Linked DNA regions of Homo sapiens. The protein of the gene in region 1 interacts with the protein of each later gene in a biochemical or structural test. Each region holds a gene or a part of one and is shown in the gene's direction. Other genes may lie near its edges.

Region 1 (4,890 bases):
TTCCTCTGTCTCTCTAGGAATAGGGTCTGTTTCACAGGCCATTTCTGTGAACCCTACTCCATTGTGGTTTCTGCCACTATCAAAGTTCCAGCTACCTGCAAGGTGAAGGAAGGCATCCCTTTTGGGGCATGCACTTTCTTTCCTTTCTCAAAATAATGTTATATGTGGCCACACTGATGTTCACCTTTACGTCCAGGGTCTTTGTGCCTTGTCTCTACTCCCTCTCTTGGATCTGGGGAGGAGGGGCAGAGACCTGGGACTCTGTATTTCTATAGTTCTCCTGGCAGAGCCTTTGAGAATGGGGAGAAACAGCCTGGGCTGGGGCTACAGGTCTGTCACTATGCTCTCTTGCCTTCAGACAGACCATTCTGAATTCTCTAAAGGGAAAGGGCTTTTGCATCTAATCACAATAGAGTTGAAAGAGAGGCCTTAGGATTCTCCTCTCTCTAGGTGCTGAGCCCTCACCTCCCTGTTCCAGGCTGAGAACTCAAATGGTTACCCTGCTTCTTCCTACAATGCTGTGTGATATGGGTGAACCCAGCCCCTGACCTTCCTCTATCCCCTGCCCATCCTCCCTTTTACCTCCTCTCTTTTTTAAACACCTGTTTATCCCAACCTTTTTGAGCTCAAGCTGTGATAAAGAAGGGCCCATCCTATTTCCCCTCATCTAGTCCATTTACGATTCTCACTGACTCCCCGTCTTCCTGGCAGACACAAATAAACCCAGTGTCAGGTCTAGGAAATTAATGGCTATTCTTCCCCAGATACATTCTGGCTTATTTGAGATACATGATTCTCTTAGAATCCTGTCCCTTGGTTCAGGAAAGTAGCTTGGAAAAGGAGTAGGGGTATAGCTTGGGTCCCTTTTCCTGCAAGGCCCCATGGGGCAGAATATAATAAATATTCTGAGTGAGGAGTGTGGTCTTTTTCTGATCTTCCTCAGCTTCCGTAAGTTGCAGAGTGAGGTATATTAGGAGACTAGTTCTACACAATATTGTAATGCTGGGTTCCATCAACACCCACCTTCCACAACTCAGTCTGCACCTCAGTTGGCAAAGGAGACTGGATGGCCATCTTTCCTCATGTTCCCTTGAGTATTTCAATGTAGAAAGCCCTTCAAGTGGTATTATATTTTAACCTTTTACATTATTGTTATTAATGTTAGTAATATATTGTTATGTTTTCTAAATTATTTTTCTTTAAGCTGACGTGGCTTTTTTTCTGTGGCTCCCAGTGGGTCTACGGACCTTGGCTGACATATGTTGGTAGGTACTCTGGTCAGCTCAGCTGGCTGTCCTGGTTCACTCAGAAGATAAGTCTCTCCAAAGCAAATTCACATGCATTATGAGTCGCTTTGAGCTTCTGACATGTCACTTGCCCCGAGGTTAAAACTTTTCACCCCTTGAAGACCTTACATGTTTTATGGTATTGGTGAGGAAGGAAATGTTCTCAAGGTCTCAGGCTATTTGGGAAATTCCAACTCCTATACCTTACCAGAGCATGGAAGAGCCCAGATCTGAATGTAAAACGTCTCTGTTCTGCCAGAGATGGAAAAAATACAGGTATACTTGTGATATAGTCATGGGGCTTCAGTGTCACTATTTTCTCCTTAAAGCTCCAGCCAAAAACTGGACAAGGATAGAGAGGAGGAGGGAAGAACAAAAGAGCCCTTCTCTATGAACCTTGTGCCTTCTGTCCTACCAGTTTTCTTTTACAGATTCTCACTTCTGCTAGCCTAGCCAGGGCTTACTCCAGGAATCTAAATAGATGCCCTAGTCCACTTTATCTTTGTTCCCAAGGCACTCATTTTTATTTTGATTTTGATTGAATGTGAGCAGGTTGACCTCAGGTCACACTTTGTTCCAAAAACTTTTGGAATTATTCCAGGACTTGTGGTGGAGTTATGGTACTCTAGGGCAGTCTTTCTCAAACTATGTATGGTAAAGGACCAGGTTTTTTGTTTTCCAGTCCTTCACTTATCAATATGCATTCCTATTGCCCATGACAGGTATGGAGTTCACACTGTGTGCTGCCGACCCGGCAAGTTTGACAGCACCCAAACTGGCCAGACTGTTCTGTAGGTTAAGTCCATTGATCATGTACTTGGATATCACAGCAACATTGAAATGCTAAAAAGTTTTTAAACACTCTCAATTTCTAATTCACCATGTCACAGACTGGTGAAAAAAAAAAAAAGGTGTTCACTGACCAGCACAAGTCTGCAGATCATCTTTGAGTAGCACTGTTTTGGGGCCCTCGGTCTCTCTGAAGACCCTAGCAGAACTGATACCTACCTGTATCTCTTGTTCTCTCCTATTTGAGTTTCACTTCCAGAGAACTTGTTCTTCAGCAAGAATGTGTCACTAGTAAGGACATCTCTAGCATTTCTCTAGCCTTCCTTTTCTGCTGCTCAAAAATAATCGTTACAAAGCTTAGGTTTAAGCTGTATATGAAATATTTATGCGACTCTCAAACTTTAAAGGAGTTGCTCCTTTGTTCCAAAATTAAATGTGTTAGATAAATTTGTGATTGTATGGGTGGCTTCATGAATTAAGAATTGAATTAATACAGACTTTTTGATAATTGGGACATTTTCCTGTGACTCTGGAAGGTCTTGTCAAAGCCCCATGAGGCAGTTATAATATGATGTTAAGATGGCTTTGGGGAGCTAGGAGAAAACATTGGCCCATATTGAATGACGTGGAGACGGCAGACCATACAAAAAAGGACCAAAAGACTTAGAGGAAATGGGTATGCAAGAATGAATGTTATATAACACTGGTAAACCCACCAGCTGACTACCCCAGAAAGACCTGGGAATTATTTTTTAATAAAGACAATGGGAAAGGCACTGATGAAGGGTTACCAGCATCTTTGAGAAATTTAGAAGTGGCTGTCTCTCTAGATCGAAGCTGATACAAGATGTAAAAGAAACTGTTTTCCTAGTAGCAGTGGGGGAATGATAGGATCCTGACATAGCAGAGGCCAGGTGGCAACACTTAACTCTCAGAAGCAAGGTGAGTAAATTTCCTTAAGGGTAGCAAGGTCAAAGTGGAGATGGCTAACGGAATGTGAGTGGTCCTAGGAGCAGGATAGATGGGCAACCAAGAAGAGTATTGTCTTATATATAAGGGAGATCAAGAATGGTTGAACAGAAGGCTGAAGTCAGAAACTTCAAAGAAAAGTCCCCATTTCTTGTCCAGTTTTTAAGCCTGAGATAGTTCTTAGACTCATAAACTATCAATGGAAAGAGACATTTATCAGTTAATCATTGAGTGGAAAAGCACTGTTCATCCTCTGTTCTCACACCACAATGAGTGACACAGAACTCTTCTGTAATCACGTGTGGAATTCCCTCCCCTCAACAAGCAAGCAATTCTGCAGTGGATAACAGCTGGATATCCTCTAATTTACTTTAATTCTGACACTGTCTACCTGGAGACAGTGTCAGATCCCACAGGTTGACCAATCAATCACTGAGACTCTCCCCCCCAACTTCTGATGTCAATTGCAATTCCTGGGTTATTTTGCCTGTGCTATAAATCAGGGTGTCTACAGCCAGCTCCTTGGGTTTGGTTAATTTGTTAGAGTGGCCCACAAAACTTGGGGAAACACTTACTTACATATTTCAGTTTATTTAAAGGATATTACAATGAATATAGATGAAAACATGGCTGGACCCAGTGGCTCACGCTTGTAATCCCAACACTTTGGGAGGCCGAGGTGGGTGGATCACCTAAGGTCAGGAGTTCGAGACCAGCCTGGCGAACATAGTGAAACCCCGTCTCTATTAAAAAAATACAAAATTTAGCTGGGTGTGGTGGTGCATGCCTGTAGTCCCAGCTACTTGGGAAGCTGAGGAAGGAGAATTGCTTGAACTGGGGAGGCGGAGGTTGCAGTGAGCTGAGACTGTGCCACTGTACTCCAGCCTGGGCAACAGACAGAGCAAGACTCCATCTCTCAAAAAAAAAAAGATGAAAAGATGTATAAGGCAAGGTTGCAGAGCTTCCATTCCTTCTCTGGGCATGCCACCATTTAGGACAGCGGTCCCCAACATTCTTGGCACCAGGGACCAGTTTCATAGAAGACAAGTTTTCCACAGAGGGGGGTGGGGGGATGGTTTTGGGATGAAACTGTTCTACCTCGGATCATCAGGCATTAGCTAGATTCTCATAAGGGGCACACAACCTAGATCCCTCGCATGTGCAGTTCACAATAGGGTTTGCACTCCTCTGAGAATCTAGTGCCACTGCTGATCTGACAGGAGGTGGAGCTTAGGCGGTATTGCTGGCCCACCTGCCACTCACCTCCTGCTGTGAGGCCCAGTTCCTAACAAGCCATGGACTGGTACTGGTTCGTGGCCCAGGTGTTGGGGACCCCTCATTCTATAAACCCTCATGTGTTTGACATCTTGGAAGCTGTCTAGATCTTGTCTTTTTGGGTTTTTATGGAGGCTTTATATATAGGCATGATTAGCTGAACCATTGGCCATTGGTGATTAATTTAAAATTCAGCCCCTCTGTCCTCCCTAGAGGTTTGGGGGTGGGGTTGAAAGTTCCAACCCTCTAATACTGCTTTGGTCTTTTTGTTGACTGACCCTGAACCTGAAGCTACCTAGGGGATGCCAACCATCAGTCAACTCATTGGAATACAATAAGACATCACTTTGAAGATTTTAAGGATTTTAGAAGTTATATTCCAGGAAAAGGGGTTAAAGACCAAATACATATTTTACAATATCACAACCAAACACTGGGAAAAGAATATGCAGAAGTTTTTGACTTGGGAAACAGGGTTACAGGGTCTGAGTTGGCATTGATACCCAGGAACCTGAAGTACCACCACAGTGTCTTCCCCTCTCAACACCCCCAACCCTGCTCTCACAGTGGG
Region 2 (5,476 bases), on another chromosome or scaffold:
CCTCCCCTTCTCCTTCATTTATTTATCTACTTATTATTGGTATAGGCTCAGAAATGTCTATTTTTCAATGGTTTACAATTGATTACTGTACTTCATTATTTTGGTATTCAAATTGCCCCAGATTTGGCCTGTAGGAGCTCCTGTGAGCTCCTGTGCCCTTGTGAATTCCCCCATCTTTTTTTTTTTTGATACTTATTTCCTATAATTACTTCATTTTAACTGTTCTTGCCCTGTAATAAAACATGAATGGTACTCTATTAACTAACAGCCATGAGGAAGTTGTCTCTAATTTTATATACCAATGTTACTAAAGAAAATTAAGGGAGGGAATTAATAAATCAATCAGACTTTGTGTTGTTTCTTTGGTATCATTAGTGCTAGAATAGATTTCTTGATTTGGACATCCTTCAGAATGTGAGGTGTGTGTACAGTTTGGAGTCCCTTGTATTCGTGTAGGAGTGAAGCTTGAGACCATGTGAATGATGGTCAGCCTTTCCTAGGATTTCTCTGCCAATTTCTAATTTGTCCATGACCTTTACTTTGCTTATTGTGTTTTTCCCCTAGCCTGGCACCATATCGAGGGTGGTTTCCAGTGATTTCCAGTCTCTGCTGCTCCAATTTTGTCTATTTCTACACTTTTAATAGCCTCAAAGCACTCTGGGTCAAAGGTCAACATTCTACCACTGGAAAAGATCTGGTAGTTGGGTTTGTTGCAGGTAACAAGGTTTTCTGGGTATAAAATGTTTTTATATTTACCTTGTGGTTTTATATCCTCTAAGAGGTTATTTAGCCCAAAGTAATGCTTACAAAGAATATAGCCAGTTTTCCAACTTGGTTTTTTTTTTTTTAATTGTGTTAAAAAACGTGACATAAAATTTACCATGTTAATTTTAAGTGTAAGGTCAGTAGTGTTAAACATGTTCACAATGTTATGAAACAAATCTCCAGTACTTTTGCATATTGCAGACCTGATTCTATTCTCATTAAACTCCCCTTTTCCCTTTCCCTGAGCCCCTTAGTAACCACCATTCTACTTTCGGTTTCTAAGAATTTGACTACTTTAGATACTTGATATAAGTCGAATCATACACTACTTGTTTTTTTTGTGACTGGCTTACTTCACTTAGTATAATGTCTTCTACTTTCATCCATGCCATACAGCATGTGACATGACTTCCTTACTTTTTTATGACTGAATAATATTCCATTATATGTATATATCACATTCTGTTTATCCATTCATCTGTTAATAGGCACTTAAGTTGCTTCCATCTTTTGGCTGTTGTGAATAGTGCTATGAAAATGGATGTGTAGCTCTCTCTTTGAGAGCCTGCTTTCCATTCTTCTGGATATATACCCAGAAGTGGGATTGCTGGATCATTTGGAATTCTGTTCAGTTTTCTCGGGAACCTCCATACTGTTTTCCATAACACTGTAACATTTATAATCCCACCAACAGTACACAGAAGTTCCCATATTTCCACATCCTCACTAACACTTACTTTCTGTTTTATGATAGTAGCCATCCTAATGGGTATGAGGTGATATCTCACTGTGGCTTTGATTTGCATTTCTCTGATGATTAGTGATGCTGAACATCACTTTTCATATGTTTGTTGGCCATTTGTATATTATCTTTGCAGAAATGTCTGTTCTGGTTCTTTGTCTATTTTTTAATCAGGTTATTACATTTTTTTGCTCTGAAGTTGTAGGATGTCTGTATGTGGTATAATAAAAAATGTATGTGGCCTTTGTCCCTGGTTCCTGGCACAGTTCCTAAAACCATTGGAATTTCCTGAGTAGTAGTATCTTTTGTTATTCCTAATGAGCCCCTTTGAACTATCTCTGAGTTTAGGCTAATAAAGTTACTATTGGTGGGCTCCTAGATAGCTTCAGGATGGAGGCTGGTGGCCAGAGGAACCAGCCATGTGCTTAGAGAGAAGGGGAGAGAAGTTGAATTTTGGATAAATAACTCAGGATAGAAGTCTAGGAGTCATCACAGGCTCTTCGTGCCTTCCCACCCTCCACATCTGCTTGGCCATCAAGAACCACTGGTCTGTCTCCTCACTGTCTCTTGGATCCATTTCCTCTTCTCCATATCCATAGCCATTTCCCCAAATCAAACCTTATCATTGCTCACCTGGACTATTGCACTATAGTCTGATCTTCCCTTTGAGGTCTTCCTCATGAACCCACTTTGCACAGTTTTGCAGCCTTTCTAGGAGAGTAGTTTTCAAAGAGTATCACGACTCAAAGAACTCAAGTTTGAGATTTGTTCACTTGGGGAAAAAAATTAGAATAGTTCCTGTACAGAAAAAGACTTGTTTTTTACATAAATTACAACAAATGGCAATCTAGTGGGATCTTCTATACTTGAGACCAGTTATTTGTAATACTTTGATTTTAATCATTTTAGATTAGTTTATATGTATTTGCATTTGAAAGATTATAACTTACAGGGACTAACTCATATAACTTTCCATGAAACTTCTAATTCATGGACTATATGTTGAAATCTTTTGCTTTTTAAATTGTCCAAAGCGGTTTATTTGCTGTGTCTGCCATCCCATTACCCACCAGATATATACCACCCCTGTGTTACTCTCTCTGTCCTGTTCATCTTTCTAACTCTTAGTGCAATTTAGGATTACAGCAGACTCCCCCATACCTAACACAGCTGGACTGGTATAGTAGGGCAGTTAGCTTTCATTTTTTACTTTTTTCCACTTGTCTAAAATTTTTTTTTCAGGGCTCATGAACAATTTTTTTCTTTTTTTTTTCAGGGCTCAATTTTAAAAAGTCAGTTAAAGTAACACATATAATAAATAGCCTACTAACCTTAATTGTTGTATTTTAACTTTAAAGTTCACTCTTCCACTTTTTTTTTTTTTTTTTTTTTTGAGATTGTGTCTCACTCTGTTGCCCAGGCTGGAGTGCAGTGGCATAATCTTGGATTGCTGCAACCTCCACCTCCTGGGTTCAAGCAATTTTCCTACCTCAGCCACCTGAGTAGCTGGGATTACAGGCACCCACCACCATGCCCAGCTAATTTTTTATATTTTTAGTAAAGATAGGGTTTCACCATGTTGGCCAGGCTGGTCTCAAACTCCTGACCTCAGGTGATCTGCCTGCCTCGGCCTCCCAAAGTGCTGGGATTACAGGCGTGAGCCACCGCGCCCAGCCTAAAGTGTTTTCTTGAGTGTGTGAGAAGGGGGTAGGATTACAGTTGACACATAGGAGAGTCTACGGGTCTGTGTTGACTGTGAGCATCATCTGTTGTCTTGTCAGAAAATGGTCCAAGGCCAGGTGTGGTGGCTCACCCCTGTAATCCCAGCAGTTTGGGAGGTCAAGGCAGGAGGATCACTTGAGCCCGCAGTTTGAGACCAGCCTGGGCAACATAGCAAGACCCCATCTCTATAAAAAATAAATTTTAGACCAGGCGCGGTGGCTCACGCCTGTAATCCCAGCACTTTGAGAGGCTGAGGCGGGTGTATCACCTGAGGTCAGGAGTTCGAGAACAGCCTAGCCTACATGGTGAAACCCCACCTTTACTGAAAATACAAAAAATTAGCCAGGTGTGGTAGCAGGTGCCTGTAATTCCACCTACTTGGGAGACTGAGGCAGGAGAATTGTTTGAACCTGGCAGGCAGAGGTTGCAGTGAGCCAAGATCATGCCACTGCACTCCAGCCTGGGCAACAAGAGGGAAACTCTACCTCTAAATAAACAAACAAACATAAAATATTTTAAAAGGTAGGGAAAGAAGGAAAGAAAGAAAATGAAAATGGTTGGGAGACCCAGCTCCTGAGTCGCTGGCATCAGGGATCCTCCGTGGCGTGTCATCGGCATCGTCGGGCCCCTGGTGCACCCCCGCGGCAGACAGAGCTCACGCCCCTTCCCACCCCGTGGCTGGTCCGGGGTCCGGGCACCGCGTGGACGGTGTCTCTGTAGGACGCAGGGACCGGGCTGCAGCCCATGCCTCGAGCAGACTGCATTACGAAGCATCTGTCATACTCCTGCCGGGACCAAGTGGTATGGGGCTTCGGCCGTGGCTACAAGCAGCTGGGCATCCCCCACAGCTAATTTTCCTGAGCAAGTGGTAGATAATCTGCCAGCCGATATATCCAGTGGCATTTATTATGGTTGGGCCAGTGCTGGAAGTAGAGATGGTCAGAAGATGGTGGTGAGCATAGGATGGAACCCATACTATGAGAATACGAAGAAGTCCATGGAAACACATACCATGCATACCTTCAAAGAGCACTTCTATGGGGAAATCCTGAGTGTGGCCGTTGTTGGCTACCTCAGACCAGAAAAGAACTTTGATTCATGAGAGTCACTTATTTCAGCAATTCAAGGTGATTTTTGAGGAAGCTAAGAAATGACTAGATTTACCAGAACATTTGAAACTCAAAGAAGATAATTTCTTCCAGGTTTCTAAAAGCAAAATAATGAATGGCCACTGATGAAAAATCATATTATTTATTCATTCACTGTCTTCCAGTATTTCAGTGTTTTGTTTTGTTTTTATTTTATTTTATTTTAAGTTTTTGAGATGGAGTCTCGCTCTCTCTCCCAGGCTGGAGTGCAGTGGCGTGATCTTGGCTCACTGTGACCTCTGCCTCCCAGGTTCAAGTGATTCTGCTGCCTCAGCCTCCTGAGTAGCTGGAATTACAGGCGCACACCACCACGCCTGGCTAATTTTTGTATTTTTAGTAGATATGGAGTTTCACCATGTTGGTCAGGCTGGTCTCGAACTCCTGACCTCGTGATCTGTCTGCGTTGGCCTCCCAAAGTGCTGGGATTATAGGCATGAGCCGCAACGCCCGGCCCAGTGTTTATTATTGTCCAGCCTCATCTTGGTTATATTTCAAAAATCAAACATTTTCCTACAGCTGTGAATTAGTTTAAACAGTACAATGTAGTTACCATATCATGCTTCATCTGTTAAATTAAGCCCATCATGTCATAGCACTAAAAAGATTCATTTAAAAATCAAGATTTAAAAAATATATATTGATTAAGATGTACCACTAGGAAGGTATTACATGCGTATAAGTATGGGTAAAAAGGCAAGTCACTAGTTTGTGATGAAAAGTGAAATTTTCATGGTAAAATACCAGAATGTATGTACTTGTGTAGTGCGTACTTCTAAATAGAGAAGGCTTATAAAAGTAAACAGATTAAGGCCAAGTGCAGTGGCTCACGCCTGTAATCCCAGCACTTTGGGAGGCCAAGGTGGGAGGATTGCTTGAGCTCCGGAGTTCAAGACCAATCTCGGCAACATAGCGAGACCCCATCTCTATAAATAAAACAAAAGTAAATGCATTAAATGGAAGGTTGACAGTTTATCATAAACCTACAAAGATGTTTGTAAAATTTTGTTTTAGTCATTTTCTTTGAACTCACATCATTATACCATCTTCATTTTTGTATGGAGCTGGTTCAATTCTAAGTCCTCTAGACTTTCCCTGCCTA
Region 3 (5,297 bases), on another chromosome or scaffold:
TTTGTTTTGTTTTGTTGTTATTTCTTTGATGAAGAGGGTCAAGAAAAAAGAAAAAGAAATTAAGAAAAAAAGGCAGGGGGAGAAAGAAAGGCTCTGAGAGACGAGACAGAAGTTTCAAGTAAGAAGTGATTATTCGCTGTACTATTTGAGACTACTGAAACGCTCATCGCCTATGTGTCCTGTGTAATTTGTGTATGACAGTTTCCAGGCATAAGTTGAGGAGGTTGTACAAGATTGCAACTCTTTGCTAATGTTCTTCAATTGTATTTTTTCCTAGAGACCTTCAGAGAAGACATGGCTTCCAGAAAAGAGAATGCGAAGAGTGCAAACAGAGTGCTAAGAATAAGCCAGTTGGATGCACTTGAACTAAACAAGGCCCTGGAGCAGCTAGTTTGGTCCCAGTTTACTCAGTGCTTTCATGGATTTAAACCTGGGCTGTTAGCTCGCTTTGAGCCAGAGGTGAAAGCGTGCTTATGGGTTTTCTTGTGGAGATTCACCATCTACTCCAAAAATGCCACAGTGGGACAGTCAGTTTTGAATATTAAGTACAAAAATGATTTTTCCCCTAACCTGAGATATCAGCCACCCAGTAAAAATCAAAAAATCTGGTATGCTGTTTGTACAATTGGTGGCAGGTGGTTAGAAGAACGATGCTATGATTTGTTTCGAAACCATCATTTAGCATCATTTGGGAAAGTCAAGCAGTGTGTGAATTTTGTGATTGGACTTTTGAAATTAGGTGGGCTGATTAATTTTTTGATTTTCCTTCAGAGGGGAAAGTTTGCAACTTTGACAGAACGTCTCCTAGGTATTCATTCTGTATTTTGCAAGCCTCAAAACATATGTGAAGTTGGCTTTGAATACATGAATAGGGAACTTCTCTGGCATGGTTTTGCTGAATTTCTGATTTTTCTCTTACCACTTATCAATGTCCAGAAGTTGAAAGCCAAGCTGTCTTCATGGTGTATTCCTCTTACTGGTGCACCTAATAGTGACAATACATTAGCCACCAGTGGCAAAGAATGCGCTCTATGTGGAGAGTGGCCCACCATGCCTCACACCATAGGATGTGAGCATATTTTCTGTTATTTCTGTGCTAAGAGTAGTTTCTTATTTGACGTGTACTTTACTTGTCCTAAGTGTGGCACAGAAGTACACAGTCTGCAGCCACTGAAATCAGGAATCGAGATGTCAGAAGTAAATGCTCTTTAGAAACTAAAATTGCTTCCTTTGAGGAAAAAAATGCACCGTGTTTAAATTCTTAATATTAGTCATCCTAAGTATACCATTTATGTATCCTTTATAAGGAATGTGCTCCTAGCCACTGTCTTCTCCTTTCCAGGCATGACTGAAATCTAATCACTGGAAACCATGTGATTCTAAATATATTATGTAAATGTTAATGTATTATGTTTTTTAAATCATTGCATTCAATTTTTAATGTCAAGAATAATGGACAGCTTTTGTCAGGTGACTACTAACAATGCTCCTTCATTTTACTACTTCTTAAAACAAGGTTGGATTCTAAAGATAAAGATTTTGGAGACTCTGGGATGAGTGTGCATTTATTTTCAGAGTTGACATAATATGATAATGTGACAATTATGAGACTGTTTTAAACCTTAAGACCTGATGCCTCAGTTGTAACTTTTTTTTTTTTTTCTGAGACGGTGTCCTGCTCTGTCACCCAGGCTGGAGTGCAGTGGCGCGATCTCTGCTCACTGCAACGTCCGCCTCCCGGGTTCAAGCAATTCTCCTGCCTCAGCCTCCCGAGTAGCTGGCACTGCAGGTGCATGCCACCATGCCCGGGTAATTTTTGTATTTTTAGTAGAGATGGGGTTCACTGTGTTAGCCAGGATGGTCTCTATCTCCTGATCTGGTGATCCACCTGCGTCAGCCTCCCAAAGTGCTGAGATTACAGACGTGAGCCACTGTGCTTGGCCGCCTCAGTTGTAATGTTATGCTTTTCTCTGAAGCCAATTTTTAAGAAGTTCAGTCCTCAGCTGTCTGACCCCTCCACAGTTGGCTTTATATTCAGAAAGTAAAAATTACTTAAGGCAGCTTGGAAGTGAGGCCTGGGAACTACTGGGGGCAACTAGTATGAACAGCACTATTTACAGGTCTCTTTCTCTTGCCTTTGATTCAGAGCTGTCATTCTCAGTAAATATTGATAGTTTTATTGAAACAAAAGGGGTCTTTAGCATGGGAATAGTAACAGCAGTGCATAATCAAGATAATTCTGTATCCTTCACTCTTTTTCTCTGCCTTTTTTTACTTAAAAGTAAATTCAGACTCTTAAAATGGTATAGAATTATTAGCTTGAACATTGAATTATCTCGTCTTAACTAGAATGTTTTTTAAAAAACAGTTTTTAAATGTTTTTAAATAAACATCTTGCTAGTATGATGGAAATACACTGCCAGTTCATTTTTCTCTTCACCTTTCATTGAACAAGTACTCAGGTGCCAGGTACTGATGTAGCCATTAGAGGCACAACAGTATATTAAGCAGGAAAAATCAAGTTACCTTCATGGAGTTTACATTCTGTGATTGAATGAACTGTAAGTTTAATTTAGGTTCAATTTAGTGTAAGATACTGAAGAAGTTTTGTAGTTTGAGTTAAGAGTATTTTACATCTTAAGAATTTGCCTTCTTTTGCCTTCTGTAATTTTAAAACATTATTGTAGAAAACACCAACAATTCAGGAAAAAATATAAAATCAACTTTCCCACAATTTTTTGAGAGAGATCATCACTATATTTTACTATATTTGTAGATTTGTTGCACGTACATTTCTTATTTACAAAATTATTATAATGCATAAAAAATAGCATTTTTTCCTATGTATAAATATTCTTCAAAACTATTTTAGGGCTGAGCACAATGGCTCATGCCTGTAATCCCAGGCTCCCTACTTAGGGAGGCTGAGCCCAGGAGTTTGAGTTCGTTTCTAAAAAAATAAAAATATATACAAACGTCTTTGTTTTTTGTTTGTTTGTTTGTTTTTGGTGAGAAAGGGCCTCACCCAGTCACCCAGGTTGGAGTGCAGTGGTGTGATCATGGCTAACCGCAGCCTTTCCCTCCCAGGGCTCAAGCGATCCTCCCATCTGAGCCTCCCAAGTTGCTGGGACCACAGGCCCATACCACCATGCCTGGCTAATTTTTGTAGAGATGAGGTCTCACTTTGTTGCCCAGGCTGGTCTTGAACTTCTGGGCTCAAGCAGTCCTCCTACCCTGGCCTCCCAAAGTTGTGGGATTACAGGCATGAGCCACTGCACCCAGCCATAATATATTTTTAAAATGCTATGTATATGCCATCATATTCCTATTCCTATTATTATTTAACCACCATCATAGAGCATTTAGGTTCTTTTCACTTTCTGTTGTGAATAATGCAATGTTGAATCTGAGTTCATTAAGTGAAGAGTCCAGCTGCACACTGCAGGCCCAGTCTGGATGTAGGTGCTCAGATGGTTCTCTTTGAGACAGGCTTTATCCTTTGGCTCTCATTTTTTTGATGAGTGTACATGGCATGAGGGACACAGATTCCGCTAGAATTCAAATCCCACTTGTGTATAACCTAGGGCAATGTGCCACATCTCTGCACATCTGTTCATTGTAAGGATTACATGTTTAGTGTATATAAAGCTCTTAAAACAATGCCTGACACATAGTAAATAGAATATAATAGTAGTGCTTTCCTTTGCTGTTGTCAGTATTACTCTGAGTCGGTTTCATTCTCACACAGAATGATGGCCGCTAGAAGCTCAAGGCTTATAATCTGCTAGCTTTCTGATCCCACTGGCATGAGATACTCTTGCCTAATAGTTACAGCTAAAGTCCAGGAGCTCACTGTTACTGGTCTGCCTTGGATTATGTGCACATTCCTGAACCAGCCACTATAGCTAGGGGATGGAAAATACTGTTCCTGGTTACTTAAATGTAGGTGATGCTCCTCCCATATACCACATGAACCTAAAGGAGTCCTGGAGGAGGCCGTTCACCACAGGAAACTGAGGTGTTCTTAGAAGGGTGGATGCTGGCAGATCTCTACTAGTTAGAGTCTACATTTGCCTTACTCATTTCAAAAGTCCACATTGCAGTCTCATTTTACCAGTGATCTAGCTTGATAAGGACATTCATAAGTAACTGGATGATTCTTTAACATTGCAGATTTGAAAGGATTAAATAAAGTCAACAAAATTGTTATATCAACAATTGTATTATTTTGATAGAGTAACTTCTAAGTAGTTATCCATATTCTCAAAATCTTAAGAAAACAGTACTTTACATATATGCCAGCTGATAGACTTGTCAGTATTGGGGTAGGGGGTGGTTTTTTTCCACAGACCCTAATGGCACTTAGTAAAAATAGGTTTTTATTATTTTTCATTTTTATTTAACATCTGCCACCCCTACTAGGTGATAACCCCCATGAGTTCAGAGACCATGACTATTTTGTTCATCACTAGATAGCCAGAGCCTTTTAGTTCTAGTGTAGCAATAGAAACATTTTATTAGCTGAATAAACCTAAGGTCGCAGATAGGGTTCTGCAGAAGCTGGCGTTGAAAGGGGTTTGAAGTACAAGAGATTTTTATGTATAACTCTCAGGGATCCATGCCTGTGAAGGGAAAGAGCAAAGCAGGAATAGGCAGAAGAAATGAGAGTACTCTAAAGCAGGCCTGAAAAAAGTTGGCCAGCCCAGAGGGGAGCTCTGAGCTAGTGTCATCTGTCAGAATGTCCTAAATTAGGCCAAAGTAAATAGGCCTTTTTACCTACACTTCTGTCAGTCACTGGGTGTGGGCAGCTCTGGGAAGGTTGTGATCTCAAGCATGGCAGCTCTGTAGCGGAAGCAGATCCTGTGGGAGCCAACAGCTGGAGGCAGTCCACTGACCACATTCCACAGCTGGGCACCATGTACATCCTTGCAGGAGGAGCCAGGTGGCATATCTTGGTGTGTACCACATCTAATACTGTCCATTTTTTCCTTTCTGGTTTCCTTTTTTTTTGTTTTTCTTGCATATAGTACACTGGACAAACAACACACTAATGCCAGGTAGTGTTCGTTTATAAACAATAGATTTATGACTGACACACCCAAGTGTCTCTTGAGTATCTCTGCCCCACTACAAATACCAGACTTCTTGGCCAAGTTGCTATGACAGCCCCCAGGAACTCCATTCAGTCTCTGCCTCTCTGGGCACTGCCAGAAGAGTTGCTATACCTCTGGTGCGACTGTTTCTACTCCCCAGCAGGCTCCAGGCTCAAGCTTTAGGAAAACTGGATGGGATTTAGC
Region 4 (5,476 bases), on another chromosome or scaffold:
TTAAATTGCTTTTGCTGTATTCTACAGATTTGGTATGTTGTGTTTCCATTTTTGTTTTCAGAAGAAAATTTTTAAAATTTTTCTTTTAATTTCTTTATTGACCCATTGGTTAACCAATATCATGTTGTTTAATTTCTATGTATTTGTAAGTTTCCAAAGTTCTTCCTGTTTATTGATTTCTAGGTTTATATCATTCAAGAGAGAAAAGACACTTGATATAATTTCAATCTTCTTAAATTTTTGAAGACTTGTTTTATGGCATTACATGTGATCTATCCTGGAGAATGTTCCATGTGTAGTTGAGAAGAATGTATATTCTGAAGCTTTTTGATGAAATTTTCTATAAATGTTTGTTAGATCCATTTGGTTTAGAATATAGCTTAAATCTGGTGTTTCTTTCTTGATTTTCTGTCTGGATGATCTAATTGCTGAAAGTAGGGTGTTGAAGTCTCCTACTCGTATTGTAGTTCACTTCTTTCAGATCTAGGAGTATTTGATTTATATATGTGCTCTGATGTTGGGTTCAAATATATTCAGAATTATCATATCTTCTTGCTGAATTGACCTGTTTATTATTATATAATAACATTCTTGGCCTCTTTTATAGCTTTCACTTAAAGTCTATTTTACCTGACATTAGTATAGCTACTCCTGATGCCTTTTAGTTTTCATTTGGATAAAATATCTTTTGCATTCCTTCACTTTTAGTCTATATTGTCCTTGCAGATGAAGTGAGTCTCCTGTAAGCAGCGCACAGTTGGGTCTTGCTTTTTAATCCAGACACTGTCTTTTTTTTTTTTTTTTTTGAGACAGAGTCTTGCTTTGAAGCCCAGGCTGGAGTGCAGTGGTGTGATCTCAGCTCACTGCAACCTCTGCTTCCAGGTTCAAGTGATTCTCCTGCCTCAGCCTCCTTAGTAGCTAGGATTACAGGGGTCCACCACAAAACCCAGCTATTTTTTTTTTTAGTAGAGACGGGGTTTCACCATGTTGGCCAGGCTGGTCTCAAACTCCTGACCTCAAGTGATCTGCCCACCTCAGCCTCCAAAAGCACTGAGATTACAGACGTGAGCCACTGCACCTGGCCCAGAAACTATGTGTTTTAATTGGAGAACTTAATCCATTAATATTCAAGGTAATTATTAATAGGTAAGGAATTACTCCTGTCATTTTGTTAATTGCTTTCTAGTTGTTTTGTAGATATTTTCTTCCTTTTTTCTTCTCACAGTCTTTCTTTGTGGGTAAGTGATTTTCTTTAGTAATATGCTTTGATTCCTTGCTTTTTATTTTTAGTGCGTCTACTACAGATTTTTGCTCTGTAGTTACCATGAGGCTTACCAAAAACATCTTATAGTTAAACATGTTATTTTTGTACCTATTATATGTTTTTGCTTCATGGTTACCATGAGGCTTATAAAAACATCTTATAACATGTTATTTTAAGTTCATAACAACTTTAATTTAATTGCAAAAAAGGCACAATCTTTACCCTTTATCTCCCCATTTTGAATTTTTAATATCACAATTTACATCTTTTTATATTGTATATATGTTAACAGATTATTTTAGTTGTTAAAGTATATACAAATTGCAAAAAAACACAACCTTTACCCTTCATCTCCCCATTTTGAATTTTTAGTGTCACAATTTACATCTTTTTATATTGTATATACTTTAACAAATTATTTTAATGGTTATAATTTTTAATAGTTTTGTCTTTTTGTCTTCATACTAAAGAAATAAGTGATTTACCAATAGCAAAGACTTGGAACCAACCCAAATGTCCATCAATGATAGACTGGATTAAGAAAATGTGGCACATATACACCATGGAATACTATGCAGCCATAAAAAAGGATGAGTTCATGTCCTTTGTAGGGACATGGATGAAGCTGGAAACCATCATTCTCAGCAAACTATCACAAGGACAAAAAACCAAACACCACATGTTCTCACTCATAGGTGGGAAGTGAACAATGAGAACACTTGGACACAGGAAGGGGAACATCACACACCGGGGCCTGTTGTGGGGTGGGGGCAGCAGGGAGAGATAGCATTAGGAGATATACCTAATGTAAATGATGAGTTAATGGGTGCAGCACACCAACATGGCACACGTATACGTATGTAACAAACCTGCACATTGTGCACATGTACCCTAGAACTTAAAGTATAATAAAAAAAAGAAATAAGTGATTTACATAACCCCTTTATATTATTTGAGTATTCTGAATTTGACTGTTTACTTGCTTTTACCAGTGAGTTTTATACTTTCTAATGTTTTCTTATTACCCATTAGCATCATTTCTTTCAATGTGAAGAACTCCCTTTAGTACTCCTTATAAGACATATCTGGTGGTGATAAAGCCCCTCAGCTTAGTTTGTGTGGGAAAGTCTATCTCTTTCATTTCCAAAGGACAATTTTGCTAAGAACAGAATTCTTGGCTGAAAGGTTTTTTCCCTTCAGCACGTTGAATATGTAATTCCATTCTCTCCTGGCCTGTGAGGTTTCTGCTGAAAAAGCTGGTAACAGTCATATTAGAACTCCCTTATGTGTTATTTTTTTTTCTTGCTTTCAGGTTTCTCTCTTTGTCTTTGGTTTTTGGCAGTTTGATTGTAATATATCATCGGGTAGTCTTATTTGGATTGAGTATGATTGAAGACTTTTGACCTTCCTGTACCTAGATAGTTATATGTCTCCAGATTTTGAAATGTTTCTGCTATGATTTATTTAAATAAGCTTTATAAATCTTTATCTTTCTTAACTCCTTCTTGAATACCAACAACTCATATATTTCCTTTTTTTTTTTTTTTTTTTTTTTGGAGCTGGAGTCTCACTCTTGTCACCCAGGCTGGAGTGCAATGGTGTGATCTTAGCTCACTGCAACCTCCGCTTCCTGGATTCAAGCAATTCTCCTGCCCTGCCTCAGCATCCCAAATAGCTGAGAGTACAGGCACACACCACCACGCTGGGCTAATTTTGTATTTTTAGTAGAGACAGGGTTTCACCAGGTTGGTCAGGCTGGTCTTGAACTCCTGACCTCACATTATCCACCCACCTCAGCCTCCCGAAGTGATGGGATTACAGGCATGAGCCACCATGTCCAGGCGACATTTGCTCTTTTGATGCTATTCCATAAGTCCCATAAGCTTTCTTCATTCCTTTTCATTCTTTCTTCATATCATAAGTTTGCAAGTAACCTGTTTTCAAGTTCACATATTTTTTTCTTCTGTTTGATAAATTCTGCTATTGATGTCTCCATTGCATTTTTAATTTTTTTCATTGTATTTTTCAGCTCCAGCATTTCTGGCTTTTTTCCCATTATTTCATATCTGTTGCATTTCTCTAATAGATTTCTGAATTGTTTCTCTGTATTTTATTGAAGTGCGCTGTATTAGTTCATTTTCATACTGCTATAAAGAACTGCCTGAGACTGGATAATTTATAAAGAAAAGAGGCTTAATTGACTCACAGTTCAGGATGGCTGGGGAGGCCTCAGAAAACTTATGATCGTGGCAGAAGGTGAGGGGGAAGCAAAGCACCTTATTCACAAGGTGGCAGGAAGGAGAATGAACTCAGGAGGAACTACAAAACACTTATAATACCATCAGATCTCAAGAGAATTCAATCACTATCATGAGAACAACATGGGGGAAACCCCATCATGATCCAATTGCCTCCACCTGGTCTTTCCCTTGACACGTGGAGATTTTGGGGAATACAATTCAAGATAAGATTTTGGGTAAGGAAACAGCCAAACTGTATCATTTCGCCCTGGCCCCTCCCAAATCTTATGTCCTCACTTTCAAAACATAATCATGCCCTTCCAACAGCCCCTCAATGTCTTAACTCATTCCAGCATTAACCCAAGAGTCCAAGTCCAAAGTTAGTTACTTCCTAGATATAATGGGGGTACATGAAATGGGCAAATACACCCATTCCAAATTGGCCAAAAAGAAGGGGCTATAGGCCCTGTGCAAATCCTAAATCCAGTGGATCAGTCAAATCTTAAAGCTCTGAAATAATCTTTAACTCCATATCTCACATCCAGGTGCTGCTGATGCAAGAGTTGGGCTCCCATAGCCTTGGGCTGCTCACCCCTGTAGCTTTGCAGGGTATGGCTGCTTTCATGGGCTGGCATTGAGTGTCTGCTGCTTTTCCAGGTGCATGGTGCAAGCTGTTAGTGGATCTACCATTCTGTGGTCTGGGGGATGGTGGCCCTCTTCTCACAGCTCCACTAGGCAATGCCCCAGTGGGGGCTCTGACCTCACATTTTCCTTCTGCACTACCCTAGCAATGGTTCTCCATAAGGGCTCTGACCCTGCAGCAAACTTCTGCCTGGACATCCAGGTGTTTCCATACATCCTCTGAAATCTAGGCAGAGCTTTCCAAACCTCATTTCTTGACTTCTGTGCACCACAGGTCCAACCACCAAGGACTGGGGCTTGTACCCTCAGAAGGAATGGCCTGAGCTGTACCTTGGCCCATTTTAGCCACAGCTGGGACATAGGGCACCAAGTCCTGAGACTGCACAAAGCAGCAAGTTCCTGGACCTGGCCCAGGAAACCATTTTTACCTCCTATGCCTCCAGGGCTGCCATGAAGACCACTTACATGCCTTGGAGACATTTTCCCCATTGTCTTGGTGATTAACATTTGGTTCCTCATTACTTATGCAAATTTCTGCAGCTGGCTTGAATTTCTCCCAAGAAAAGGGGTTTTTCTTTTCCATTGCATCGCCAGGCTGTAAATTTTCTAAACTTTTATGCTCTGCTTTCCTTTCAAACATAAGTTCCAATTCCAAATCATCTCTTTGTGAAGCATAAAACTGAACACTTTTAAGAGCACCCAGATTACATCTTAAATGCTTTGCTGCTTAGAAATTTCTTCTGCCTAAATCATCTCTCTCAAGTTCAAAGTTCCATAGACCTCTAGGGCAGGGGCAAAATGCCACCAGTCTCTGCTAAAACATAGCAAGAGTCAGCTTTGCTCTAGTTCCCAAGAAGATTCTCATCTTCATCTGAGACTACTTCAGCCTGGCCTTCACTGCTCATATTACTATCAGCATTTTGGTCAAAGCAATTCAATAAGTCCCTAGGAAATTCCAAACTTTCCCACATCTTCCCATCTTCTGAGCCCTCAAAATTGTTTCAATCTCTGCCTGTTACCCAGTTCCAAAGTCACTTCCACATTTTTGGGAATCTTTTTTTTTTTTTTTGAGACAGAGTCTCACTCTGTCACCCAGGTTGGAGTGCAGTGGTGTGATCTTGGCTCACTGCAACATCTGCCTCCTGGGTTCAAGCAATTCCCTGCCTCAGCCTCCTGAGTAGCTGGGATTACAGGCACCCGCCTTCACGCCCAGCTAATTTTTGTATTTTTGTGGAGATGGGGTTTCACCATCTTGGCCAGGCTGGTCTTGAACTCCTGACCTCATGATCCACCTGCCTCAGACTCCCAAAGTGCTGGGATTACAGGCATG

Evidence for each region. The genes of interacting proteins can lie anywhere in the genome.
Region 2: the proteins of PEX19 (region 1) and SLC25A17 form a complex in vitro, tested with the Homo sapiens proteins (one study listed by BioGRID and IntAct).
Region 3: the proteins of PEX19 (region 1) and PEX2 interact in a test that uses a peptide from one of them, tested with the Homo sapiens proteins (one study listed by IntAct).
Region 4: the proteins of PEX19 (region 1) and ABCD2 form a complex in vitro, tested with the Homo sapiens proteins (3 studies listed by BioGRID and IntAct, with this or other methods).

What each region holds. Positions count from the first base shown.
Region 1 is NC_000001.11:160,274,506-160,279,395, reverse strand, and holds the end of PEX19 (peroxisomal biogenesis factor 19), read left to right. Parts: 3' UTR 1-2,589; downstream 2,590-4,890. UniProt on the Homo sapiens protein: Necessary for early peroxisomal biogenesis. Acts both as a cytosolic chaperone and as an import receptor for peroxisomal membrane proteins (PMPs).
Region 2 is NC_000022.11:40,787,765-40,793,240, reverse strand, and holds part of SLC25A17 (peroxisomal membrane protein PMP34), read left to right. Parts: intron 1-564; coding exon 565-716; intron 717-5,476.
Region 3 is NC_000008.11:76,979,176-76,984,472, reverse strand, and holds the end of PEX2 (peroxisome biogenesis factor 2), read left to right. Parts: intron 1-277; 5' UTR 278-294; coding exon 295-1,212; 3' UTR 1,213-4,215; downstream 4,216-5,297. UniProt on the Homo sapiens protein: E3 ubiquitin-protein ligase component of a retrotranslocation channel required for peroxisome organization by mediating export of the PEX5 receptor from peroxisomes to the cytosol, thereby promoting PEX5 recycling.
Region 4 is NC_000012.12:39,556,722-39,562,197, reverse strand, and holds part of ABCD2 (ATP-binding cassette sub-family D member 2), read left to right. Parts: intron 1-5,476.